Homo sapiens: one gene and its partners. The protein of the gene in region 2 interacts with the protein of the main gene of each other region in a biochemical or structural test. Each region holds a gene or a part of one and is shown on either strand. Other genes may lie near its edges.

Region 1 (5,042 bases), on a different chromosome or scaffold from region 2:
TCTTGCTATGTTGCCCAGCCTGGTCTCAAACTCCTGGCCTCAAGTGATCCTCCCACCTCAGCCTCTTCAGTAGCTGGAACAATAGGCATGTGTACCACCACATGTGGCTAATTATTTTTTATTTTTTGTAGAGATGGGGTGTCACTATGTTGCCCGGGTTGCTCTTGGACTCCTAGTCTCAGATGATCCTCTTGCTTCAGCCTCCCAAAGTGCTGGGATTACAGGTGTGAGCCACCATGCTCCGCCAGAATCCAGTCCTAAATTTCATTGTGCCCATGGCTTTGTCTTCCCAGGAGCTCCTGTGCTCTAAGCAACCAAGAGGAAGCATCGAAGTTTCAGCATCACTGGTCTCTGTCGCCATCTCCCCTCCACCTCATACCCTGTGCAATAGCTGGTGATGTGCACTAGCCCTCCCCGCCACCAGAAGCCCTAAGGGGTTGAAAGCAGAACCCCATTTTAGACACCCCTCGCCAAAAAACATAGTCCAGGATACACATTTATTCTCTGTGGAAAAAGAAAGAATTTGACTTTATTTAGAAAGTCTACAAAATACAGAAGACGATAACTCGCTTGCTGTAAGTCAGGAAATAAATAAATTCTAGGAGCCGGGCAATATTTTTTAACTTTTTTTTTGAGACAGGATTTTGCTATGTTGCCCAGGCTGGAGTGCAGTGGTGCGATCTCAGCTCACTACAACCTCTGCCTTCTGGGCTTAAGTGATCCTCCTGCCTCAGCCTCCCAAGTAGCTGGGACTACAGGCATGAGCCACCATGCATGGCTAATTTTTGTATTTTTTGTAGAGATGGGGTTTCACCATGTTGTCCAGGCTGGTCTCAAACTCCTGGACTCAAGCGATCCCCCTCCTTGGACTCCCAAAGTGCTGGGATTACAGATGTGAGCCACCGCGCCCGGCTTAAACATTTTTTGTTGTTGCTCTCCGGCTTTCCCTAAATATAAGATAAAATGTGATTTATTTGCAGATATAAAATATAAAGCCCAGCTCAGGGCCATACGCCACTTTTCCCAGGGAGCAGGAGCTCGGGCTCTGGCTGGGGAGAATAACTTAGATCCGTGCAATAAATAAACAGTGGGGAGGGGCAGTGTGGACAGTGTTGGGGGAGGGACTGAGACTGGGCTTCCCAGGAGAATGACAATCAAAGGCAGGGGTCAGCCCCCACCCCACAGTGGACACTGACAGGGGTTGAGGTGGGACCCTTCTTCTTAGGACCCCACTCCAGACTGTAGTAGGACTGCAGGGTCTGTCTCCTTGTCTCCCTATTTGCCACAGCAGTCCATGGCCCCCTTTCTCTGACTGGCCAGCCCCCGGACACCCTGGCTGCAGGGACAGCCTAGGGCTGAGCCAGGCCAGCTCCTTCCCACTCTTCCATCCGTGTCACCTTCTCTCTCCCTCTGCTTCTCTCCCCCTCCCTTGCAGAGAGCGGTCTCCCAAGCCAGGGAGGCCCTCCCACCACATTTCTGAGTCCCTGTCCACTGTCCCCCTGAAAACCATGGCTGGACTCAGGGCAGCAGTGAGGACACCCAGGTTTTGGTCCCAACACAACCACTAAGTGAAATGTGACCTCAGGCCTGTTTCCCCATCCGTGAACTGGGTTTCACTAGTCTTCCCACCCACTCTTTTAGTTTCGGAAGGCCAGGCACCCCCAGGCCCAACCAGAGGTGGGGGCATCTCTTCAGTGCAATTTCTCAGCAGGACGGTCCCGTAAGTCACAGACAGCCAAACCTAGCTTTGAATCCTGGGAGGGTTTGGAGGGCATATTGGCACAATAAGAGCAGTTTCCAAGATGAGGGGTGCCCTCTTCTCCCCCAACAGCTGTTCTCTAAGCCGGCTCTGTATCTCTCAATCTAAAAAGGCTAAACTTTCAGCCAAGGGCGATCCCAGATCCAGACCTCTGCCCCATCCCCAACCTACCCAAGTTCCCCTTCCCAGGGTCATTCGGTCCCAGTTTGGGGGGCTGCAAGAGGAAGACAGGGCCCACGAAGGGAATGTGTGTGCACCAAGGGGCCAGTGCTGCAGAGAAATGGGACCTGGGCACAGAGGCGGCGCTCAGGCACTTTGGGGAGGGAGCTGAGGCCGGAGGGGCGTGGCTGAGGCATGGCGGGGGCGGGCACTAGGAGCAGGAGGCCGGGCCGTGGGCGGGGTCCGGGCCGTGGGCGGGGCCAGACCCCGAGCCCGGGGTGGACTTGACGATGGTGATGACGCTGGCCGGCGCCACGAGCGTGGCGGGCCCGCGGGCGGCGGCCACGGAGCGCGCGAAGCCCTGCAGCGCCTCGCACTTGCCGCGCAGCGCGTCGAGCTCCAGGCGCATGGCGGCGTTCTCGCGCGCCAGCTTGTCCACCTCGCGCTCCAGCTCCGACTTCTGCTTCTGCAGCTCCTCCTTCTGGCACACGCGCTTCACGCGGCAGCTGGCGGCGTAGCCACGGTTTTTGAGTGTGCGGCGCCGCTGCTTGAGCCGTGTCACCTCCTCGGCGGAGAGCCCGCGCAGATGCCGGTTCAGCTCGCGCACCGACAGCCCCATCAGCGCCTCGTCCGACAGGTGCGGCGTGTTCTCGCTCAGCTCTCGCTTGATCTGCGGGCATGAGGAAACTGAGGTCCAGGGGACTGGGGACGGGCCCCCCCGCTCCACCCGCGGTGTTCCTCTTTCACCGCCTTAGCCGCCGAGGTGGTGGGTGGACTTGATCCAAAACCCCGAAGGGGAGCAGGAATCCGGGAAGGGGAAACCGGGCCAGACTAGGATCGGGACACAAAAGGAGGCCACCCCGGGGCTCAGCCTGAATTCTAACCTAGCGCCAAGCCCTGGACTCAGCCAGAGAAACCCAGGTCGGAAAGCACCTTTGAATGCCCCAGGGGACATTGACCCGATGGGGAAGGAGGCCTGGAGAGGGAAGTGACCTACCCCAGGGACATGCAGCCTGTGACCAGAGCCCAGGCCTCCTGGTCCCAGCCCATGGCTGTGGCCCTTCCCTTTGGCATCATGAAGGCCTGGTGCCTGCTGAGCCACCCAGGGGATTCCAGGAAAGAAGGGGAAGTTGGGATGAGGAGGCTCTGCATGGGCAGGGAGGGAGGGCTTCACTGGGTTGACAGAGGCTGCCTCCTCACCTTTAGAGCTTTGCTGGATAGGGGATCCACAGACATGTTTGCAGAAGGTGCCCTCTGGGCTGCAGACCTAGGGTAGAAAGGAGGTCAAAGTCACTGTTTTGTTTTTGGTTTCCCATTTAGAATAAAATCCAAACTCACTACCTTGCCATTCAAGGCCTCTGCTATCTTAGAACTGATTCATACCTGCCACCTTCCTCTCTCCACATTGGTCCACAGGCCTCCTTGAATGGCTCCTTCCAGCCGCGGGAGCTGTGCACAGGCTGTGCTCTTTACTGTTCTAGCCCCATGGTGACTCCTCATCATTTAGGTCTTTGCCCAATGTCACCTCCTCAGGAGGTCCTCTTTGACCATTCTGGCTAAACGCCTCTGTGTCACATCACATAACCCCGCCTATTAACCCTTGTAACAGTCACCTCTTCTGCATTTCTCATGCTTGGTTCCTCATCTATGATTTGTTTCTCCTTCCCACTCCTCCTCCACCAAAACGGAAGCCAATGAAGGCAGAGGCCTTCCCTGTCTCACCACGGCATCAATATGCCTAAATCAGTGCCTGGTATATAGTAGATGGCTCAGTAAGTGTGCACCAAATGAATAGATGTGCCTCTCCTGACCATTCTTCCACATGGGGCTTGGACATGTGCCTTTGATTTGATTTTTCAGAACTTTTCTTTCTCTTTTTCTTTCTTTCTTTTTTTTTTTTTTTTTTTTTTTTTGAGACAGAGTCTCACTCTGTCACCCAGGCTGGAGTGCAGGGGCGCGATCTTGGCTCACTGCAACCTCCGCCTCCCGTGTTCAAGGGATTCTCCTGCCTCAGCCTCCCAAGTAGCTGGGATTACAGGTGCCTGTCACCACGCCCAGCTAATTTTTTGTATTTTTAGTTTATTTTTATTTTTAGAGACAGGGTTTCGCCATGTTGGCCAGGCTGGTTTTGAACTACTGACCTCAGGTGATCCACCCGCCTCAGCCTCCCAAAGTGCTGGACAGGTGTGAGCCACTGTGCCCAGCCAATTTTTCAGAACTTTTCTTAAAGTATAACCTACATACAGAAAAGTACACACAGCATATGTGCACCAGTAAATGCCTTTACACAAAGCCCATCCAGCACCCCGTAAGATACAACATCAGCCAGTCCCCTCTCTCCCCAGGCCTCCTTCATCTAGACCTCTGTTTTGGGAAAGTTTTCCCAACCTCCTGGGGGCTGCCCCATACTAACTCAGCATGCCCTAGGCAGATGGGGCAGCCATCCCTAGACCAATGAGGGCCTCTCATCTCCTAATCCTCCCTCCCACAGGCCTGACAGCCACATGCTCCTTCAACAACTATTTATTGAGCTCTTTGCCAAACATGTACTTGGTAATGGGGAGAAAAAGGTGAATAAAACTCGTGGAGGGTCAGTGGTCATTGCTCTGGGCTGGAGAAGGGGACCATCTCCCAAAGTCCCCTTTAAAGCAGCAGTCCTCTCTGTCTCTAGCTGATAGGATCTACTTTGCCAATCCTCTCAGGTTCTCCGCCATGAGAACCTGAGTTTTCTCATCTGTCTCCAAGGGGAGGGGGCAGTGATAAGAAGCCAAGGAAAATAAAGGAAGATAGGCTGGGCGCGGTGGCTCACGCCTGTAATCCCAGCACTTTAGGAGGCTGAGACGGGCAGATCACCTCAGTTCAGGAGTTCAAGACCAGCCTGGCCAACATGGCAAAACCCTGTCTCTACCAAAAACACAAAAATTAGCCCAGGCGTGGTGGTGCATGCCTGTAGTCCCAGCTATTTGAGAGGCTGAGGCAGGAGAATTGCTTAAACCTGGGAGGTGGAGGTTACAGTGAGCCGAGATTGCGCCACTGCACTCCAGCCTGGGAGCCTGGGTGACAGAGTGAGACTCCATCTCAAAAAAAATAAATAAATAAAAAGAAAACAAAGGAAGATGCTTTG
Region 2 (7,661 bases):
CAGGGACGTGCCCAGTAACTTATCTATTATTATCTTAGTGCCAAATTCTTCCTGCATACTGAAAAGTTAACCCAGGCTTGAGGAACAGTTAAGGAGGAAATATTGACACAAAACCCCCTTTAAATGTCTTCAGTCAGGACAGAGGAAATTCCCAGAAAAAAAAATGTACTTGTTGGGTTCCTTTTTTTCATGCAGCTTTGTTAAACATGATTTATCCTCAATAAAAACAAATATTAAGAAAAATGATGCATTTGGCTTTCAACTTTTCCTGGTAATCCTAAAGACAGAGTCAGTTTTCCCCCCAACATTGCTTATAAGAACCCAGGGCAAGAAAGAAAGATTTCAAAATGGCCCAAGTTATTTTTAATGCGTAAAAGACTGATGTGAGTTATGCATTTATCCTCCTACATGCTGCTTCCACAACCTCTCAAGAGATTTTTCACATATCTAAAAAGTCAAGTTGTTCTTTGCTTAACATTCATTCAGGAGATGAGAGGCCTGTCCTATTTTTCTTTTGTTTGACTTAAAAATAATCTCATCGGTCTATTTCAATATCAACTTCATCCCTCATCTAGGAAAGTGCTTTATCTCTCCAAGACACCCTTGAAAAGAGTAATGGATGGTTCCTTCCACCTAATGGAGATACTGAATCTAAGGCTCTCCTTACTGCCCTGTTTATCAACACATCCTCTGCACAGAAGGTGAAAAACTATATCCTACTACCACTTCACACCTGGAGAGTTTTTTTTGACAAAAGGTCAAGAAAATGTTTGACTCTGTTCAAATCTTTATGGATGACAACAATCTAATATGAATCATAAACAAAATCAATTCTAAATTTTCTTGTTCTTTTTCTGTTTTCAAATATGCAAATCGATGTCTGATTACAAAGGTAGAAAAGCAGTTATTTTTATCAAACGTAATTGGAAAATACACACTTAATGCGGTACATATGTTTCACGCATTTTTGTATAAGGAATGTTATATTACACAGCAAAGAAAGAAAAATTCAAAAATAATAGAGGGCTGTAGACAATTCCGGAAATCAGAAAAACTAAAGTTCATTTTTATCATATATCCTTCAGTCAAACAAGCATTCCTATAGATAACTCTTGAACAGCAGCTATTAAATAAATCGGAAGGTACAATTTAATTCTTCACTAGTTGGAACCAGAAGAATACAATCCCAATGAAGACTGGGGAAAAGTTCAAGACAAACAACTTTAAAGGGGGAAAAAAGCACAATTAATACATTGTCCATAACTTAAAACTTTACAATAGATCTTTGGAATTAACCGAAAACTTTACATTTAACAGCATAAACGTATTTACTGTACATCAAGTACACATTTCCTTGAATTCCAATTTTTTTCCTAAAATTCATTTACAAAAGAAGTTAGAAATATAAATATCTACTTTTAAAGTTTCTACAAAGGATGAGCAGAAACTTCTTTTCACTTTTATAACAATTCACAGAAATTAGCAAGTGTTTTGAAACGCAAGCGTTCCACTCTCTGCCCCTGCAGAAGAGGGGGAACATGTTAAGAAATTGAGGCAAATTCTCAACTGAAAAGGAAACATATATAAAGTACTCAGGGGAGAAATAATAGCTGAAAGCAAAAAATTACTAACAGACTAAAAGCAACAGAAATTCTAATCTACACTCGCAACTCTTACCCTTGACAGCACAGAAGAGAATATCCCGTCTTACACATTTTGGAATTGCAATTCTGAAACGCTAAATCCAAAGACAAAGCCGCTCTGGGGAAAATAGCAATTGCGCAACAGATCAACAGCTCCAACCTGTCCCTTGGCCCTGGCGCGGCGAGGTTTGCACGCTATAAAGCAGGAAAGGGCCAACCGAGGGCTGCTGTGACGGCCAACCGAGCGCTGTCACGGAAGCCAAGGCCACGCGCGCGGTGAGCGCCACCAGGGGGCACCGCGTCCGAACTAGAAGCCCCGGGTGCCGCCGACTCCGGCCTCAGAGTCCACTGCCCTCGCCCGCACTTTCCCGCGGCGTTACGAGGGGCCAACTCCGGGTGCCCGAGCCCGAACCCCTCCCCGGCCGAGAAAGTGCGCGGGGCCCGGCTCAGCCGCCACACGTCGGGGCTTCTGAGCCCGCTGGGCACTTAAGGCGCTCCTCCCTCGTCCCGGGGCTGGGCTTTCAAGAGAGCTCAAGGCTGCCAGAGAGTGATCCGAGAGATGGATGACTTCGCAAAGCCGCGCCCACAGACGGCCCAGCGGGGTGAGCGCGTCGCAGCCCGCACTCAAGGAGGTCTTGGGGCGCGGCGAAGGGGCTCCGGGTCCCAGCCCGAAGGCGACCTCAGTTCCCCCGAGAGCGGCCCCGTGACTAGGCACATTTTTGCCGGCACCGAGGCGGGGGAGCCGCGCAGCCCCGGAAGGGCCGGGCCGCGCCGGCTCAGACGGCCAGCGTCCGCCCCCTCTTGCCCCGCCGCCCACCGGGCCGCTCAAACTTAGGGGCTCCGGAGTCCCAGCTCTCGGGCCCGGGGACGCGGCTGGATTCTCCCCCAAGGCCCACGCGAGCGGGCTCAGTCCCCAGACCTTCCCGCAACTTCCCACCCGTTCGCCCTCGGGCTCGTGGTCGGTCGGATCACCCGGCCGCGTCCCCGCTGCCCCTCCCCGCCCTGCCCCGGCGCAAGCGCGGCGGCTCTACCCAGCGCCGCGGTCCTGGCTCTGGCCAGACGTGGGGGAAGCCGGTTGCGGCTGTCCCTCCCGGGCCGCGGTTCCCTAGCTCCCCCGCCCCCGTCCCGGCACCACCGCAGGGCCCAGAGGGCCGAGGCAGCACCTGCTGGGACGGGAGTCCCGGCGGCGGCAGCTCCAAGTCCATCATGATGAGCTGTGGACCGTGTGTTGGGGCTCCCCGACGGCGGCCCTGTTCCGGCTGCCGAGGCGCGGCGCGGACAGGGCGGCTCTGGTGGCGGCGGCGGCGGCGGTGGCGGCTGCGTCGGCGGCTCCTCCGGGCTCCCCGGCACTCGGTAATCGGCTACACGCCGGCGGGCCCCTGCCCCGCTCCGCCTCCCGCCCCACAAGGGCGGGGCAAGAGTCCGGGCCCTTCCTTCCCCCGCCGGCCGCGCGGGCTGAGCTTCCGAAAATCCCCCACCCGCGCCGGGGCTGACGCAAGAAGCTCGCGGTCCGGGGGCGGGAAGGGACTGCCAGCTGGGGTCCCAGCAGGCGGGGGACCTAGAGGAGGTCTCCGTTAGCTCCCCGGTGCCGGCGTTCAGTTTGCCCTCCCCCGCAAATAAGGGCAGCGCTCTCGCCCGCGAGATAAAGAGTTGTTTGCGAAGGTCGCTGGAGTTCGGACGCTTTGAAACAGTTTAAACAGTTGGAACAAACACACCCGGAGCCCCGGAAAGGCGTTGGTGTAGGAGCTGCGCCTCCCTGATTTGGAGTTGCAGAACCTTGCCCTGCTTTTATCTCACTTTACCGCCCGAGAATGGCGCCAGCCGGGGTGGGGGGGGCTAAAGATTTGGACCCAGACCGTGCCACTGCCAACTGCCCTCCCGCCCTTGCTCCCTTCCCGGGCTGGGGCCAGTGGGCCCTGCCTAGGGGAGATGTGGACAGCTCCGGCAGCTCGTGTTCGCAGTCACCCTGAACGCCCTCCTCTGAACTCCCACGTGTCTCCATTCTCCTAAGCTCAGGTCGTCAAAGGCAAACGGAGAAGCCCCTTTAGGTCGGAGAGTGGTCAGTATTGCCCACCCAGAGCTGGGAGAAAAACGGGAACCCCAAGAGAACCTCTTCCCACCAAAGCGCAGCCACCACGCCACAGATGGCGCCCTTCAACAGTGTGTAATACCACAACATGCTGTAATCGTTTACTCTTTACAAATTTCTTTTTCACGTACTCACAAAATAGTACAAATTAAAAAAAGTTACAAAAACGTTTGTATAGTATTGGCTCATTTTATAAAAACGTGCCTAGAAAAAAATTGAAGGTTACCAATATATTAAATGCTGTGGAATCAACGATTTTTATGTTTCTCCTTGTTACTTCCAAGTATGCTTTAAATCTGCAGTGCGTATGTTTTATGTCTTACATTAAAAACAATTATTTAAAAATTAATCATTGCCCAGAGAAGACTTCAAGTATTTGAAACGAGGAATATTGTGAACTCTTATAAGGGTTCAAAGAGGATAGATAAATGGTTTAGTTTTGTTTTTTTCTTCCTCTTCTGCATTTACAATCTTTCTAACTCTATACAAGACTGGTTTTCAGTTTCTAGCTTCCTGGAATTATTCAAAACCAGGTGAAGTAGATAATACTGGCAGTGGTTTTGCTATTTCATTCAAAAACCACACACACACCCCTGACTATAGCAATCAACGCCCAAAAAGCTGCAGAGCTTACTTTCTCTAGGTTGCATAATTTGACACTCCCAGGATTTATGTGTAAATTTGTATATTCAGATATTCCTTGAGATAAGTGAAGCCTAAATTAATTACTTGTAATTGAAGCAAGCTTCTTTAACTCCTATTAATTCCTTTCAGCTGTTATGTGAAAACCCTGCAACATGATCTGCACAATGAAAACAAGTTAGGAGAAAACTGTTTGCAAAGGACCTCACATGAAAGATGCAGAGACATAATAATAAAATAACATTTCTGAGTCCAAGAAAAAGACAAGAGTAAATTGTTAACAATTCAAGTTACTTATTAAAATTACGACATCAGAGAAGGTAGACAATGAGCCTAGTAGGTAGGAGATACCAGAGTCATATGACATGGTTACTGCTCTAAAGGAGTTTATAAAGTATTTGGTATTTCCTTGTTAAGCCACAAAATTTCCATTGAGTTTAGACTGAATGAAATAACCTTCACTTTTCCAATGCTGCAATTTGCTGAGAGTGTGTTATTTCAGGCATCTGCAGAGTACATATTTTCAAAGGGAGGGGAGCAATATGATAAGAGTTTGAACTTGTTTAAGAAAAACAAACACTAAGGAAAAGCTGTTTGGCATTTGGTTTAGCCAAATAAAGGGAACCCCATTCTCAAGACCACCCACGTCAAGGAGGTGCCCAATCTTGGCAGACTCTGGAATGTGATTGTCTTCATATGAGAGCCTGAGCCCTTGCTTTGCCCTCCAAACCTGCCTATTGTGTTAGGAGGGCACAGATAATGCATGTTGAGAAGCTCTGGAGGAGCAAGAAAGAACAAGAAAGAGGAGGTGCTGGTTTTTCTCTCCTGTCTTGCTGCCATGGGATCCTTTTTTGCTGCCAGGCTCTCCTCGCTACTATTTGGGAAAAATACCCTCCAATTGGTTTTATGTTCTATTGACTCTTGTACCTTTTCATTGATTCCTGAATCATTTGCTGTCTTTGGGAAGACGGCCTTCCCTACATGCTTGAGATGTGTCAATTGTGATACCTTGCTCCAGATTGCTCATAAAAAATAAGCATCATTGGCCAGGTGCTCTGGCTAACGCCTATAATCCCAGCACTTTGGGAGGCCGAGGCTGGCGGATCACGAGGTCAAGAGATCAAAACCATCCTGGCCAACGTGGTGAAACCCTGTCTCTACTAAAAAATACAAAAATTAGCTGGTTGTGGTGGCATGCGCCTGTAGTCCCAGCTACTCAGGGAGGCTGAGGCAGGAGAATTGCTTGAACCCAGGAGGCGGAGGTTGCAGTGAGCCGAGATCACGCCACTGCACTCCAGCCTGGCGACAGAGTGAGACTCTGTCTAAAAAAAAAGTATCATCAAGTAAGTCTTCTGGGTATAAGAAGTCTGGATAATGGTGATGCATTGACCCCTTAGTTCCACCTCCTTTGTGCTCCAATCTGCCAAGTTGCAAGGTGCAAGAAAGTACCGATTGTTTCAAAATCCTCCATCACTTTGAGGCTTCTTCCTCTCTCTGTCACTTCCTCTCAATTGTTCTCCATGTTTGAGCCAGAAAATATTCATAATCTTTTAGAATTGTAGTTGAAATTCTACTTTGTCCAGTGTAAAGTATAGAAAGCTTCCAAAGATGGCACCCAGTAAACCACCTCTCCTGATATTGAGGCATTTGTCTAGTCCCCTCATATTGAAACAAGCATGGCTGGCCCTGCAACTTGCTTTAAGGTATGGAAAGAGGCCAGAAGTGACATTATGCCAGGTTTTAACCTAAGCTTGAAAAAGCCCTGACAGCTTTTAATTTTATACTCTTGGAAGTCAGCCATCATCCTAAGAGGTCTGACTACCTTGATGGAAAGAGAGGCCATGGGAAAAGTCATGGAAGATGAAACTCTAAATGGAGAGAGAGAGACTATGTGAACCAACACACCAGACATGTGAATGAAGAAACCATCTTGGACCTTCGAGCCCACCTATTCAAGCCCCCAAAGAACTCCAGCTCCAGCTGCTATATGACTGCAGTCACATACAAGAGACTGTAAGCAAGACCGGCAGAAGACTCCCTGGCTAAGCTAAGTCAACACCAAGAACTGTGAGAAATTATAATAAATCACTTTCAGCTATTAAATTTGGGGGTGGTTTGTTTCATAGCAATTGATAACCAAAACAGCATACTGTATGTATGGTGACTATCAAAGGCAGGGTTTCCCCTGGCTGCTCTTTGTTTGTTAACCAACATTGGGAGCACAAACAGGGAGATGATACTTGGTGATTTAATAAAACTCAGACTCTCAGAAGAAAATGACTTCCCTGGGAATGAGGAAGCTGTCTTTCCCATAACATATCTTTGTTGCTACATACAAAGTAAAAAACCTCATCACACCATGCATAAGTTTCATTTTATTAGACGATGGAGAGATAGTCTCCTTATCAAAATACACTTCACGAACACAGACATTTTATCAATGAAGTAGATGGAGGGATAAATGCATACAGAGGTTCTGACCGTGATATGACCTCATTTGTGCCAGTTATGTAAGATACTCGCTGAATATCTGCTTAGGGAGTTTGAACTTGAGCAACCTGCCCAGTGGATAAACTAAACTCCAGTATAGGCCAGGCGCGGTGGCTCACACCTATAATCCCAGGGAGGCCAAGGTGGGCGGATCACCTGAGGTCGGGAGTTTGAGATCAGCCTGACCAACATGGAGAAACCCTGTCTCTACTAAAAATACAAAATTAGCTTGGCATGGTGGTGCATGCCTGTAATGCTAGCTACTCAGGAGGCTGAGGCAGGAGAATTGCTTGAATCCGGGAGGCGGAGGTTGCAGTGAGCCGAGATCGCGCCATTGTACTCCAGCCTGGGCAACAAGAGCGAAACTCCATCTCGAAAAATAAATAAGTAAATAAAATAACAAACTCCAGTAAAGCAGTGTTCAAAATATTTGGTGTATTAATTTCAAAACACACCCGCATCCTTGGTTCCCTGGGGTGTACACCTCACTGTGCAAACTACTGGTACAATGAGCTGTACATCTCCAAAGCCAGTTTTAACTTGTGTAGTTTCCTGCTCATAAAGAAAAAGTATCCTGCAGCAACAGCAATGCAGTGAGTAAAGAGAAAAATGTTTAAAAGAGTCCTTTGAATTTTATGTGTTGATACCTATATAAATATATATGCACAGAAAAAAAAGACAGAATGCATATACTCCAAAATGTTAACCGTAATTATTTTGACTAGATGGAGACTGATGACTTTTTTTTCTCATTTTTCCATGTTTACATTGTTCTAAATAAATAAACATACTTTTTT
Region 3 (7,028 bases), on a different chromosome or scaffold from region 2:
ATCTTTTTTTGGGGGGGTCGGGGGGATAGAGTCTCACTGTGTCACCCAGGCTGGAGTGCAGTGGCATGATCTCAGCTCACTGCAGCCTCCGCCTCCTGGGTTCAAGCGATTCTCGTGCCTCAGTCTCCTGAGTATCTGGGATTACAGGTGCCCACCAGCACGCCCGGCTTCTTTTTGTATTTTTAGTAGAAATGGGGTTTCACCATGTTGGCCAGACTGGTCTCAAACTCCCAACATCATGTGATCCACCTGCCTCAGCCTCCCAAAGTGTTGGGATTTGACTCCACATCTTGATCACATCTTTCCCTTGTTTCTCTCTTCTGTCTCTAGCCCTTGTTCTCATCCGCTTCCCCACTTCAATTTTCCTCTTATTTTCTCTTTCCTAGCTTCCCCAGCTTCCCCTCTTCCATCTTCCTTACAACTATTCCTATGAGTAATGCCCCCTAGCATTGCCTCTTAGCCTGACATTCTTGAAACCATACAGTTGAAACCCTGTTAGAACATTACCACACTGTACTGTTTTCCCCGGCATTTGCTTACCACTCCGTAAGCTGTTGGTGCAGTTTCTGCACATCTAAGATTGTTCTCCACCAGTAACTTGTATTAAGAGCAATTATGATCATCACTATTGTGCTCTCACCGAGTGCCTATCACTGCTCTAAGCACTTTACATGGATGAGCCTACATAATCCTTGCTTGAAGGAGATATAATTTTCCAGATGAGGAAACTTAGGAAGATAAAATAGCTTGTCCACAACCACAGAGTGGCAGAGCCAGAATTCAAATGCAGGCAGCCTTGCCCCAGATCCTACACTCTGAGCAGATGGGACCCTAAGTTAGTTGCTCGTAATCCTGATTCAGGTGTCCTGGCATGCCATGAGTCACACTCACACAGGCTGTTCTCTGCTGTGATAAGAAATTGAAATTTGGACCCACTATTTGCTTCAATGACATTTAGAATTGATAACTCTTTTTATTTTCAACTTAAATGGTAGTATCTCAGTAGGACACTCACAGCTTTAAATCCCATCAAGATTTTAACTCATCACCATTCCGAAGAGATCTTACTTAAATGATTTTTTTTGTGTGTGTTGTCTGTCAGGAATATAAATTGAAGATATAAAAGCCAGCACCCGCAATAATTCTGCAACTGGTAGGAGGCAACCCAGGACCTCTTGGTGACCTTAATAAGGGTCTTCTTTGGCTTATCCAGGATGTGACCTTCTGCAGCCTCCAGTATTAGACATTCCAGGGCATTTTCTGCCTTTTAAAAAGCATCTGATTCTCATTCTGGTGTTTAATCAGAGAGAGACCGTTGGCCTCTTTCCATTCCTCATGGGAGAGCTCCATTTTTGTGCTCACATTTTTCATCTTTGGTGATACTCAGGGTTGATGTTTTAGTGGGCTAGACTTTCTGCATTGGATTAAAACCTTTCACATGAGCTTGGTGAATTCTCCAGTGACCAAGTCCCCTGGGGGCCTCCAACCCTATAGATTCCAGCATGATAAGAGTGGAAAGGAGTCCGGAACATCATGCCTGGGGTATAGTGAGCACTCACACCATGGATTTATTTTTTCATTTTCCAAGCCCCCAACCATGTAAGGTATTTTATAAACATTATTTTATTTGATTCTCCCAACAATTCTATACCACTGGAATTATGTCCGTCTTCATTTTTCTAGATGAAGAGACAGAGGCTCAGAGACTAAGCTTCCCAGTGCTCAGGGTTACATGGTGAAGGAGGCAGAGTTTGCATGTACACCTGCTGAGCCACAGGGACCATGCCTATGTGTTTTATTTGTGTGCTATCTGCTCCCTGAGATGAATGAGGTTAGATATTTTCTTAGGAGAAGAAATACTTGGAAGGCACAAATGGGGTATGACAAACTATGTTCAGCTTCTCTGTGGCTAGCAGACCTGAGCTAGCCCCCTCCCCCTCTGTATTTGAATATAGTCCCATCTGTTACCTACCTATGTAAGGCTTCCAGGTAAGGAGGATGTAAGGCTGTTGGCTGGCAGGAGGCAGAACACAGTAGATCCACAGACTAGTAAAGGCAATGCCTGTCTCTGACTTCCGATCTTAGGGCTGTACCTCCCTCATTTGTGTCCAAAGACCCAACATCTTTAGGGTTCTCCCCCTGCCTCCTCCCCATCTAACCCTGCCCACTGACAACTCCAGTGCCTTCTTCTCAAGTTCTTCTGTAATTCTTAATTTAATAATCAAACTATGCTGATAAACTATGCTAATTGCCTAGATCTGTGGTTCTGCAACTTTTATGGACATCAGAATCACCTGGAGGCTTGGTAAACACAGATCATTGGACCTCACCCCAGAGTTCTGATTCAGGAGGTGTTGCCAGTGCCGCCGGTCCAGGGACCACACTGTGGGAACCACTGAATCAGGGAGCCTGGTCCCAGTTATATGTGTGTTGATGGTGTCTGACCAGTTGGGTATCTGATAATTCAGCCTTACTGGGAAAGATGCCATGGGAAGATAGGAAGGCATTTGAGATAGGAGACTCAGGCTTTTGTCCCTTCATCATAGCAGTAGATAATTATCTTTTACGTTGACGTGCAGTGGCTTTAGACAGCTTCTCATGGTTGTGAGCCTCTGCCAGCTCTTAAATCTTTGAGCCTGTTTTCCTCTGTGGATGAAATGGCCTTTCCTTCTAATTATTTTTGATTCCCATATCAGGTTTCTCAAGCTAAGATTGCATTGGAAGCACCTGGAGGTCTTGTTAAAGTGAGGATTCTGAGTTATTAAGTCTGAGGTGGGACCCAAGGTTCTGCATGTCTAATGAGCTCCCAGGTGATATAGATGCTGCCGGTCCATGGACCAGCAATTCTGAGTTACAACTGTATACAGCAGTGGTGCTTGCCCCTGCTGCCCAGTAGAATCACCCAAGGAGCTTTTAAAAACGAATACTTGAGCCACATTCCTTGGAGATTCTAGTTTAATTCTGGGGATTAGAATTTTTAACTCCCCCATTCCCCAACCCCCATGTGATTCCAATGTACAGTCAGAGTTGGAAGCCATTGGCCTTTACCCACAAAAAGGGATAACACCTTCTGGGAGCTCAGGTGCGTGTGTGGCACCATAGACCAGGTTGGGCTGGTCGCTTCCATGCAGGGAGGGTGCACCATTACTCCTGGGGAGCTGCAAAGGTCACCTGGGAATCTTGTTAAATTACAGATTCTGCTTTGGCAGGTTTGGGGTGGGACCTGGGTTTCTGCATTTCTAATAGATATCTTAGTGTTGCTGATGCTGCCAGTCCAGGCTGGTGCTAAGTCCCAAGACCCACCCACAAGGGCCCACACGATGCCCATTATCTCTGCCGGTGGTGGCAGCGGGTAGCTTTTCTCATGTCGAGTGTTAGAGGCTTTTGGCTTCCACCATCTGTCTCCTTAAACGCCATTCTGACGTCTCTTTTATTCAGCTTGGTATTGACACAAGACAGCGGGCAATATAGGTCTGTTCTCTTTTTGTAATATTTTCTTCCTTCTCTCTTCACAGTACGAGATGCAAAAAATCTAATCCCTATGGATCCAAACGGGCTTTCAGATCCTTATGTGAAGCTGAAACTTATTCCTGATCCCAAGAATGAAAGCAAGCAAAAAACCAAAACCATCCGCTCCACACTAAATCCGCAGTGGAATGAGTCCTTTACATTGTAAGTGGTCTCTCCTTGATCAAATTTCATTCCTATACACCATGCAGTTGCCCACCTCATTATTTGAGGTAATGAAGTAGGTTCATTATAAACGTCTTTAAACATGTCTTCAGTCCTAAGACCTCCTCAGGCTGCCATTAGGGAGGTAGCTATTAGCACCTGTTCGATAGATAGTAATTTGATTTATCAAGAGTTGCATAATTCAGGCCTCAGATTATTATTATCTAATCTGGATAAACAATTCTATTTAAGGAAATAGAATTAAGGTAAATAGAATTTAAGCTAAAAATGTGTCAGGTGTGTCCACCTCTTGATGGACTTAGGTTCTTTTGGGAGTTAGGGGAGGGCATAAGGCAAGAATTTAAATAATTTTTAGACCACAGAATGAGTGAGTAACATAGAAAGTGTTATTGCCACTGAAATGGGAAGATCATTCTTGCCTTCAAAGAGAGAAGACTTCCTGGAAAAGGTGACATTTAAAGCCAGCCTGGGAGGGTTGCCAGGATTTCAGAGGTAGAGAAGGGGAAGAAGGAAGGAGGGAATAAATAAATCAGGAGGACTGAGTGTAGCTGAGGGAAAGCAAGAGTTCCCCTTTGTAGAGTAGTATACAGGAAGCAGTTTTTCTGTGGACAACCAGAAAGGTAGCTGTCTGTTCTAGAGGGACCAGCAAGCTCTGCTCTATAAAGGATCAGATAGTATATATTTTAGGCCTTGTGGGTCATATAGCCTCTGTTGCACCGGTATAACTTTCTAGTGCCAAAGGAGCCATAGGCAATATGTAAACAGATAGCCATGGCTGGGTCCTAATAAAACTTTATTTATAAAAATAGACAGTGGGATAGATTTGGCCCATGGGTCATAGTTTGTTAACTCCTGTAGCGCTTTGCTTGCCAGCATAAGGGGTTGGTATTTTACTGGACCAGGAAGACAAATATACTATTTCTTTATCTCAGGCTCGAGTCATATACATGTGGTATCTCCCAAGAAACCATGATCAAGATAACCTAGTGTTTGCATGTGTGTGTGTCTTGTAGCAAATTGAAACCTTCAGACAAAGACCGACGACTGTCTGTAGAAATCTGGGACTGGGATCGAACAACAAGGAATGACTTCATGGGATCCCTTTCCTTTGGAGTTTCGGAGCTGATGAAGATGCCGGCCAGTGGATGGTATGGAAGCCGCTTAGGTTGAGTATGTCTCAAAGCATCAGACCATTTAGACAGTTAGGTTTCAGTCTCTCAAATGTCAGTTGAGGCTGGACATGGTGCCTCATGCTTGTAATCCCAGCACTTCAAGAGGCCGAGGCAGGTGGATTGCTTGAGCTCTGAGGTTTGAGACCAGCCTGGGCAACATGGAGAAACCCCACCTCTACAGAAAATACAAAAATTAGCCAGGTGTGGTGGTGTACCCCTGTAGTCCCAGCTACCCAGGAGGCCGAGGCATGAGGATCACTTGAGCCCAGGAGGCTGAGGCTGCAGTGAGCTTTGATTCCGCCACCGTCCCCCAGCCTGCACAACAGAGCTACCCTGTCTCAAAAATATAAAAATGTAAAAAAAGTCAAATGTCTACTGATCTGGCTGTAGCCTCTCCGTAGGATGCGTTTCACAAAACCGCTCGACTAGAGGCTGCAGGAAAGGCTTGTTAAACTTGCGGTGGTAACTCTTCTTCTCCCGTCCTTGAAAGGTACAAGTTGCTTAACCAAGAAGAAGGTGAGTACTACAACGTACCCATTCCGGAAGGGGACGAGGAAGGAAACATGGAACTCAGGCAGAAATTCGAGGTGAGGATAACAAAATGCCCGGAAACACCTTTCCTTTAGAAAGCCCAACTTCAGGAACGGCCGAGATGTTGTGGTCACATTTTTGAAAAGCAAAAAAAAAGTAATCTCAATGTTAATGATCTTTTTCTTTATTTAAAAACATGAATGTTGTTCGTTCCCTTTCCTTTGCAAGCTGTTGACTTTTTATGACTCTTACCACTTAGAAAATGGAAACTGGAAATATCGCAGAACTGAGAGCATGGTTGATTTCTGCATAAGAGATCTGTTTGCACATCACTGGGGAGAGAAGCAGGCTCTGAGGGCAGGATTGTTCTTACAAAGGAGGACTTGTGCTCTTCTGAAAAGGAGGAAGTCATTTTGGCCTTTCCTTGGGAGCTCATTTGTGTGTAATCAGGCTATCATCTGAGACTTTTTTTTTCTACAGAAAGTACAAGGTTCCTAATTTTGTTCTGAAAGAGCAGCTTAAACAAATATGCCTTTGTGTGTGATCCCTTTTTATTTATGCTCCAGATGTTTAGCAAAGGCCACCTCCTTCTCTTCTTCCTCTTGGTATTTGTGTTTGCCTCTGTCCCGGATTCACTGGTCTTTTTACTTCTCCTCCTCTGCTCCTTACTCCTCTTTTTCTTCTCCTCTCTCTCCCTTCTCCTCTTCATTTACCGACATCTCAGCTTTTAGTAAACGGTTCTTTTCTGTAAGCACCTTCCTTATGTTTTAAAGGCACAACTTCTAATATTTGTCTGTTTCTCTAATCACCCTTCATTTTGGCTGTTCGAGGGACTCCTAGAGTAGCCTTTTCAGTCTGTGTAACTGGTTAATTCCTTCGTGAATCTTTCTCTTCTTCAGACTTGTTAGAATTCCCTGGAATTTCCCCGCTCTAGAGCAGTACACGTGCACACGCACACATGTGTGTAGATGCTGAACTGCTACTGAAATGTTGACACTAATGGGATGCTGATGCTCCTCTTTTCCTTCTTCTGTTGTTCTCCAAGAAACATACAGATCTGGGGGGTGGGGAAGAGTGGTCTTGGGGGGATAATAAACCTCCTTCATGCCCCCCACAAAAGAAACATATAGGTCTTATCCAGAGAGAATGAATCCCAAAGGATGTAAAACATGCAGTTGTTCAAATTACTTTGTTAAACTGATGTTTGGTTAAAGTTGATGTTTGTGGCAAATACTAAATGGCAGGGGCTCTTTGGTTAGATGTCCTTGGGAGCACAGACGAGTGAAATGATTCACAGATAATAAATGGCAATGAACGGCAGGCCTCGGGATTGAAGCAGGAGGGAGTGGTGGAGACTGGGGTGAGCTGGTAAGCTTCAGCTCTGTCTGCAGGTGGCAGCTACGGCTACCCTGCCCCACTCGATGTTTCTCACAGGCGAGTCCAGGCCCTCTATTGCCGGATCTTCCTTCTTCCAGAGAAGCCAGAAATCCAGGTTTTTATATGATACATTCTGATTTATCTTAATGTTGGCAGAGTTCTAATGTTAAAACTTAGAACCAGGCCCTGTGCAGTGGCTCACTTCTGTAATCCCAGTACTTTGGGAGGATGAGGCAGGCAGATCACTTGAGGTCA
Region 4 (7,028 bases), on a different chromosome or scaffold from region 2:
TCCCAAAATGCCGGGATTACAGGTGTGAACCACCGTGCCCGGCCTACTTTTTGTATTTTTTGTAGAGATGGGGTTTTGCCATGTTGCCCAGGCTGGTCTCAAACTCCTGGGCTCAAGCGATCCATCAGCTTTGGCTTCCCAAAGTGCTAGGATTACAGGCATGAGCCACCACACCTAGCTTGTTTATTCTTTTAAAACTGCCTATTTTGCCATGAAATAGGTACCCTTGCTGTGAAAGCCTGTGAACACCCCTGGATGTGTGTACCTTCATTTAAAAACTGCCTTAGAGGGCATGAAATGTCATCAGGGAAGATCTATTCCGAGCTGGGTGTGAGCTCTAGCCCTCTCCCTGACCATCGGTTTGCTCTGGGGTATGAGGTTCTGAGTGTGAGGCGCCCACTGGGGCCTGGCGTCAGGGCCGACTTGCTTCTCTTAGGCTCTGCGTTCAGGGGCTACCTCTTCCAAAGACTACACAGCTGCAGGCCCAGCCTCAGAGCAGAGGTGATATGGGTATTACCAGGCTCTAATGGAAAGTGTGCTCTCTCGATATCTACTTGCAGGGAAGCTTCTGAAATTGGTAAGGGAGCACCTATTGCAAGGCTCAGTGAACAAATGGTTTTGGTATTTCCCTTTTTCATGGGGCACCAGAAGGGTATTTTCTCCTACACAGGATCGCATCTGAAGACTTTGCTGAACTGTGTTTTCCTGAAGTGAGGAGATGAAAGACCTCAGATAGGAAAAACAGAGAGTGAGAGAGAGAGACAGACACTGAGCCAGGTTCCCACACAGTTTATTGAGGGAGCCAAAGCCAGTGAGAGGACGAAGGAGTCCTACTTCAACCTACTTCCTTAAAGCTGTGTGCCTCCAGCATGAAGGGACCTTCCCAGAGGGCAGGGCCTGCCCTATAAGGGGCCACATGAAGCCTTGTGGAGACTCCTGCCTCTCATACCACAGCCTGTCCTACCCTAAAGACCCAGACATGACAGCAGACATAATCCCCACCCCAGGAGGGTGCTGAGGAAACACCCTTACCCATGCCCCTCCCCTAGAGACCTCAGGAAGAAAGGCCAGGACACCTGTCCTGTGATTGGCCAGTTGAATCCTCAACGTGAAGACCTGGCAGGCCTGGCTGACAGGTCTGTTCAGATGTGGCCTCAGGCATCTACTCTAGGATCCAACCCCTAACATTCAAACATGATTAAAAACACCCAGGACACTTCTCTTGCTGGCAGAGGCCACACCCCAGATAATGGCAGTCCTGCCAAACTCTGGCCAGAGATAGGGACCCAAGCTGACTGGGTGTGAGCACGTAAGGAGACCACTCTGCCCCATGGGGAGAATCTTCCAGGGCTCAGCTGAGGCTCAGAGCCCAGGCTTATGTTATTCCCCATCAAATGCCAGTGATTCCTCCAAACATTCCCCACAAGGGAGAAAGGGAGGAGGAGGCAGAGAGCTTATCAAGAGGTTCACCCTATATGGGGCTGGAGGTTGGATCTACTGGGGTGAGGAAAAGGGTGTAGAGGATTGGGGCACTGGGGCAGGGGCGCTGGCACATTCCTCAGATTCTGGCATGTCATCCTGGAAGTACTCAGCCTGGCGGTACTGCCACAGACGCAGGTTCCCGTCCCACTGCAGGGCAGAGGGTGGCAAGCAGTCAGGATGTGCTGCCCCCACCCAAGTCCAAGCCCCAGACATGTGCCAGCACCCTCAACCCTTGCAACCTCACCGAACTGCTGACAATCTTCTCTTCAAAGGGGTGCCAACTGACGTCACGCACACAGGCCTTGTGGTTGGTCAGCTTCTTCACAATGTGGCCACTTAGAAGGTCGTACACTGTCCAGGACAGGCAAGAGTGGAGAGGGACCACCACAAGACATCTAAACTATCCCTCACCTCCCCATGAGTAGCACCACTGACCTGCCTCTCAGGCAACTTCCCATGTTCCCATGGGAGCAAAGCCCACACCAGAAGACTGTGTTATTTCTGCTTCTATCCCTGTTCCTTTCCATACCTTGGGTTGAGGGTATGGTTTAGTGGTGTGGGTATGTCTGGCCCTTAGCTAAATTTCATAGGGGCTACAGTTAAGGAAATGCACTGGCTTTGAAGATTTTAGTAAGATATGGAAGGCACCACAAAAGTGAACAATGAGCTGTCTGGGGGTGTGTGCACCTGCTGCACCTTATCTGGACAGGGTGCATCTTTCTTTTGTCATGGGACTGTGAGTGTCTCTCTAGGGACAGCACTGCCTTAGGCTCCTTGTATCTGCAGCTGTGCTTCTGGTTTTTTTTTTCTTTTTCTTTTTTTTTTTTTTTTGAGATGGAGTCTCGCTCTTGTTGCCCAGGCTAGAGTGCCGTGGCGCGATCTTGGCTCACTGCAACCTCTGCCTCCCGGGTTCAAGCGATTCTCCTGCCTCAGCCTCCTGGGCTCAAGCGATTCTCCTGCCTCAGCCTCCCAAGTAGCTTGTGATTACCAGCGCCTGCCACCATGCCTGGCTAATTTTTGTGTTTTTAATAGAGATGGGGCTTCACCATGTTGGCCAGGCTGGTCTCAAACCCCTGACATCAGGTGATCTGCCCGCCTCGGCCTCCCACGGTGCTGGGATTACAGGCATGAGCCACCGTGCCCGACCTTTTTTTTTTTTTTTTTGAGACAGTTTCTCACTCTGTCACCCAGGCTGAAGTGCGGTGGCACAATCATGGCTCACTGCAGTCTCGGGCTCAGGTGATTCTCCCACCCTAGCCTCCCAAGTAGCTGGGACTACAGGCCTGTGCCACCATGTCCAGCCATTTTTTGTAGAGACAAGGTTTCTCCATGTTGCCCTGGCTGGTCTCAAACTCCTGGGCTCAAGTGATCTGCCCTCATTGGCCTCCCAAAGCCCTGGGGTTACAGGCATGAGCCACTGCAGCCAGCTTATTTCTTTCTATGCTTTTCTGCTTTAGCGACTGCATGTCCCTTAACTACTTGCTACCATCTTCCTGTGTCATTTTGTCTCTGTTCCCTCCTACCTTTCATCTGCAACCTCTTTCTTGACTGGCTGAAAAACAGAACCAACTATATTTTTGGCAATCTATTATATTTACTGTCTAGAATTCTATGTTCCTTTTCTTAATTTAAAACACTGAAAAATAGAATGGTTTCTATTTCTCTGTTTAAGCCTCCAAGCTAAGTTTGATTTTACCTGTAGCTGTCACTGGGCTTTTTAAGGTGGTCACTAGTCGTTATAGGTGGAATGGCAAGGAGTCATTCCTGCCCTTCCTGAGGCCCCCTGTTCTGACACAATCCTTACCAACCACTTTGCCAGTGGAGCAGCCACTGTAGATGAACTGCTGGCCAGTGCTATGAATGGGGGAGAACCGGCAGCGGATGAGGGTGTGCAGCACTCCGTGGCCCCGGTAGGTCATCAAGGAGCTGTCCCCTGGGAGCTTCAGCTTCCGCCAGGCTGGGTAGGGATGCAGAGTAAACCCTAGGTTAGGAAATCTGCTTTGGGATTGTTTCGTACCACCAGTCCTGAGCAAGGTTCGATGCCCAGAGACAAATGCCTTTCCAATCTTCAAGTGGTGGCTCTTTCTCCACCTAATAGTCAGTGGACAGTCTCCAATATGGCCCTGCCGGTTAATCATTACACTCACATACTTTTATATTGGTTGATTCTGAGTGACCCCCACCCAGGCCCCAATCCTAGGAACCTCTGGCCATTCCATCCATGATTTAGCAAATAAAGAGTTAATGCCTGGCAAAGAGGGCTGAGGGGGAGGTCCTCCAGGGCTCCCAGGCTACAGACAAATCCACTGTGCCTGTACTTCCAGTCTCACCTTTTTTGGGCACTTGCTGCCACCGATAGTCCCAGTTTTGCTGTGTGGCAGCCTGGCGTGAAGCTTCCATGCCTTCCCGGCTGGAAAAGCGTCGGATATCCCAGAGTTTGATGGTCTGGTCTTTAGAGTTGGAGATCAGATACCGGGCATCACCCTATGAATCCAAAGGTGGATAGTGAAGCATCAGAGCTTGCAAATGTCGGCGCCTGTCAGTCTAGTTCCCGTTCTCTAGTTGAGCAGAAGAACTCTGGCCTCTGGCTTTACTTGCCTCTCTTCATCCAGGTGAACTCATTTCCAGCGTTCTGCCTCAGATCCTACCACCTGGCTAGGTTTTCCTTTCCTTGCCCAGGCTACTGGCCGGCTTTCCTATTCTAGCCTTAATCAGATTGTCTTCCATTTTTCTTTTTTTAATTTTTAATTAACTAATTTTTTTTTGAGATGGAGTCTTGCTCTGTCACCCAGGCTGGAGTGTAGTGGGGTGATCTCGGCTCACTGCAAGCTCCGCCTCCCGGGTTCACGCCATTCTCCTGCCTCAGCCTCTTGAGTAGATGGGACTACAGGCGACTGCCACCACACCCAGCTAATTTTTTTGTATGTTTAGTAGAGACGGGGTTTCACCATGTTAGCCAGGATGGTCTCGATCTCCTGACCTCGTGATCTGCCCGCCTCGGCCTCCCAAAGTGCTGGGATTACAGGCATGAGCCACGGCATCTGGCCTTAGTTTTTTTTTTTTGTTTTTTTTTTTAAATAAATAGAGATGAGGTCTCGCTAGGTTTCACAGGCTGGTCTGGAACGCCTGAGCTCAAGTGATCCTCCCACCTCAGCCTCCCAAAGTGCTAGGATTACAGGTGTGAGCCGCTGTACCTGACCGGTCTTCCATTTTTCTTGTACGGAAAGCCCTGCCCTGCTCCTTGAGGACTGGTGAGTACAGATGGAATTCATGTTCCCTGGCTTGAGCCCCTTCCCTAAACTCCAACTCTTACAAACCTTGGTTAATAAGGAGCTTGTCAAATTCCCACACCAGTCCGCTTTCATGCCCTCCTGGGCAACTAGAACCTTAGCGGCCTGGCTGTACAGTCCTGACTTCTGGCCCACCTTGCTGTCAATGAAGGTGATGCCATCCTGGTGTCCAGCCAGTGCACCCACAGGCTTGGGGTCATCCTCCCGCATGGTGCGTCGATCCCACACTTTGCAGATGGCATCATCTCCCCCAGAGAACAGGATTTGGGAGCTTATATCAGCAAAGGCCACTGCATTCACATCATCCTCATGGGACTCAATCTAGGCGAAAAGGAGGCCAGGATATAAGACCTCTTTCTAGGTCTTATAAAAAGCCAAAAACCAGGAGGCAGAGGCTCTATCTCAGGAGCCATACCTGAAGGGTGCGCCGGTTCTGTTCTCGGTCAAAGACATACAGGCAGCCATCATTGGCCCTGAAAGGGAAGGGATAAAGGAGGGTCCTGGAGCCATGATCGAGAGGACCAACGTGGTATATGCTCTAGAGAGTTCCACTGAGAAATCCTGCTCTGGGTCAAGCCCTTTGCTCTTTTTATACAGGAAGTGGGGGAAGAGTTAGCTGTGTTTCAAGGAGGCTTGACACCTCCAATCTCGTGCTGGGGAAATGGAGAGCAAGGGGTGAAGCAACTTGTAAATCCTGACCTTGGGAGAAGGTCTGGTTGTTCTCTGCAGCTGCCAGTGCCATCTGTGTAACAGCAGAACTCATCTCTGGCAGAACCCCCATCTTGTTATTGAGGGAAACATACCCCACAAGCACTTACCCTCCTAGTACTTCTCGTCCATCTGAGGAGACAGCAATGGAGAAGACAGCAAAGCGACGCTCATCTGGCCTAAAAGCAAGAAGGAGCTGGGTTAAGTGGACTTCCTTCAGCTTTTGTTAATCTACATAAAATCTGACAACGGTTGTAAGGCACATCCCCAGGGGAAAAAAGAAGTCTGGCTAACATGCACCATAATGCAGATGCTCAGTGAGAACCCAGAAATCATCCTGCAACCATCTATTTTACCCAGTCCTCTGGCTGACAAGATGGTGCTTCCCTCCCAGGAATGCACACAGACCCACCAGTATACTTTTTCCCCTAAACAGAACTTCCAACTCAAGAGGTTTGCTCCCAAAGAGCTTCCCTTGAGAAGTTTCTGATGAGTCTGACCAGAAAGGGAAGCCAGTACCTGAGATCCAGGGCAGTGTGTGTATCTCCCTCACCATAGATATTGCAGATATGAACTAAGAGAAGCAAGAAAAACAAGAATCTTTCAGGGATGGGGGAAGAAGAGTGGAAGTGAAGCTAGGGAAGAGATCAAACAGGGGACAAGGGTACTGGAGCACTTTGGGAGTGATTTTCCCAGGACAAAGTGAGGGATCCTGGCTCAGAGGGGACAGGCACATGGAAACCTCAGGTCCCAGGCTGGAGAGTCAGTGGAAGCCTGGTGCATACTCACTGTAATCAGACCAGCTAGAGTAGAGGAAGTGGTTCCCATCAGGGGTGAAGGCCACATCCAAGACGCTCCAGCCTACGTCGCGGGCCTTGATGCTCTTGAATTTACGGAAACGGCCATATCGGCAGTCATAGAGTCGGATTGTCTGGTCTGTGTAAGTAAAGATCAGGCAGAATTATGGGACAGTTTCCTTGTAACTTTTCTAGATTAGACATCTCCCACTCAGTGTACCTGTGGAGTCTTCCCTTTATCATGGGAAACATGGTCTGGCTAAGCATCCTTAAGCCAGGTCTGAGCTCCCCGTCTGTGGCTTTCTAGCCTCAGTCAGGGGGAATGTCCCATGTTCCAGGAAAAGATAGTTTATAGGACCAGGGTCTGGTACCTTGGCAAGCAGACATGAATATTTGACCATCTTTGCTGTAGATGCCACAGAAAGCCTTCTGAGAGTAGCTATCAGTGAAGCCCAGATCATTGGGCAAGAAGCTAGGGAAGGAGAGAGAAAGTGAGGGTGAGGGGTGCTCAGGATAAGGAGTGTCCCAATCAGCAGAATCCTAACAGAGCTGGAATATCAGAACAGTCATTCTTCCCTTTTGGCTGTGAGTGCAATCCCGTCTTTCAACCATTCCACCATCCTCTAAATTTCTACAATTTTCTACACTTTTCTACTTTGTTTACTCTCAAAGTTTCAACCCCATTTAACCTAACCTTTAATATCTCTGAGGCTCCTTTAACACCTACCCCTTCAAAGTTTAGGAGATAAGA

Evidence for each region.
Region 1: the proteins of NFE2L2 (region 2) and MAFF form a complex in vitro, tested with the Homo sapiens proteins (one study listed by BioGRID).
Region 3: of the proteins of NFE2L2 (region 2) and PRKCA, one has a biochemical effect on the other in vitro, tested with the Homo sapiens proteins (one study listed by BioGRID).
Region 4: of the proteins of NFE2L2 (region 2) and DCAF11, one has a biochemical effect on the other in vitro, tested with the Homo sapiens proteins (one study listed by BioGRID).

Annotation. Positions count from the first base shown.
Region 1 is NC_000022.11:38,211,966-38,217,007, reverse strand, and holds the end of MAFF (transcription factor MafF), read right to left. Parts: intron 3,436-5,042; exon of another isoform or gene 3,325-3,435; coding exon of another isoform or gene 3,302-3,324; intron 3,186-3,301; coding exon of another isoform or gene 3,155-3,185; coding exon 3,119-3,154; intron 2,589-3,118; coding exon 2,130-2,588; 3' UTR 501-2,129; downstream 1-500. UniProt on the Homo sapiens protein: Since they lack a putative transactivation domain, the small Mafs behave as transcriptional repressors when they dimerize among themselves.
Region 2 is NC_000002.12:177,261,726-177,269,386, forward strand, and holds the start of NFE2L2 (nuclear factor erythroid 2-related factor 2), read right to left. Parts: upstream 3,003-7,661; 5' UTR 2,852-3,002; coding exon 2,807-2,851; intron 2,407-2,806; exon of another isoform or gene 1,678-2,406; intron 1-1,677.
Region 3 is NC_000017.11:66,683,596-66,690,623, forward strand, and holds part of PRKCA (protein kinase C alpha type), read left to right. Parts: intron 1-3,515; coding exon 3,516-3,672; intron 3,673-4,706; coding exon 4,707-4,841; intron 4,842-5,355; coding exon 5,356-5,452; intron 5,453-7,028. UniProt on the Homo sapiens protein: Calcium-activated, phospholipid- and diacylglycerol (DAG)-dependent serine/threonine-protein kinase that is involved in positive and negative regulation of cell proliferation, apoptosis, differentiation, migration and adhesion, tumorigenesis, cardiac hypertrophy, angiogenesis, platelet function and inflammation, by directly phosphorylating targets such as RAF1, BCL2, CSPG4, TNNT2/CTNT, or activating signaling cascade involving MAPK1/3 (ERK1/2) and RAP1GAP.
Region 4 is NC_000014.9:24,117,776-24,124,803, reverse strand, and holds part of DCAF11 (DDB1- and CUL4-associated factor 11), read right to left. Parts: intron 6,750-7,028; coding exon 6,649-6,749; intron 6,417-6,648; coding exon 6,270-6,416; intron 6,055-6,269; coding exon 6,000-6,054; intron 5,660-5,999; coding exon 5,591-5,659; intron 5,246-5,590; coding exon 5,188-5,245; intron 5,094-5,187; coding exon 4,908-5,093; intron 3,967-4,907; coding exon 3,813-3,966; intron 3,440-3,812; coding exon 3,287-3,439; intron 1,834-3,286; coding exon 1,727-1,833; intron 1,630-1,726; coding exon 1,495-1,629; 3' UTR 1-1,494. UniProt on the Homo sapiens protein: May function as a substrate receptor for CUL4-DDB1 E3 ubiquitin-protein ligase complex.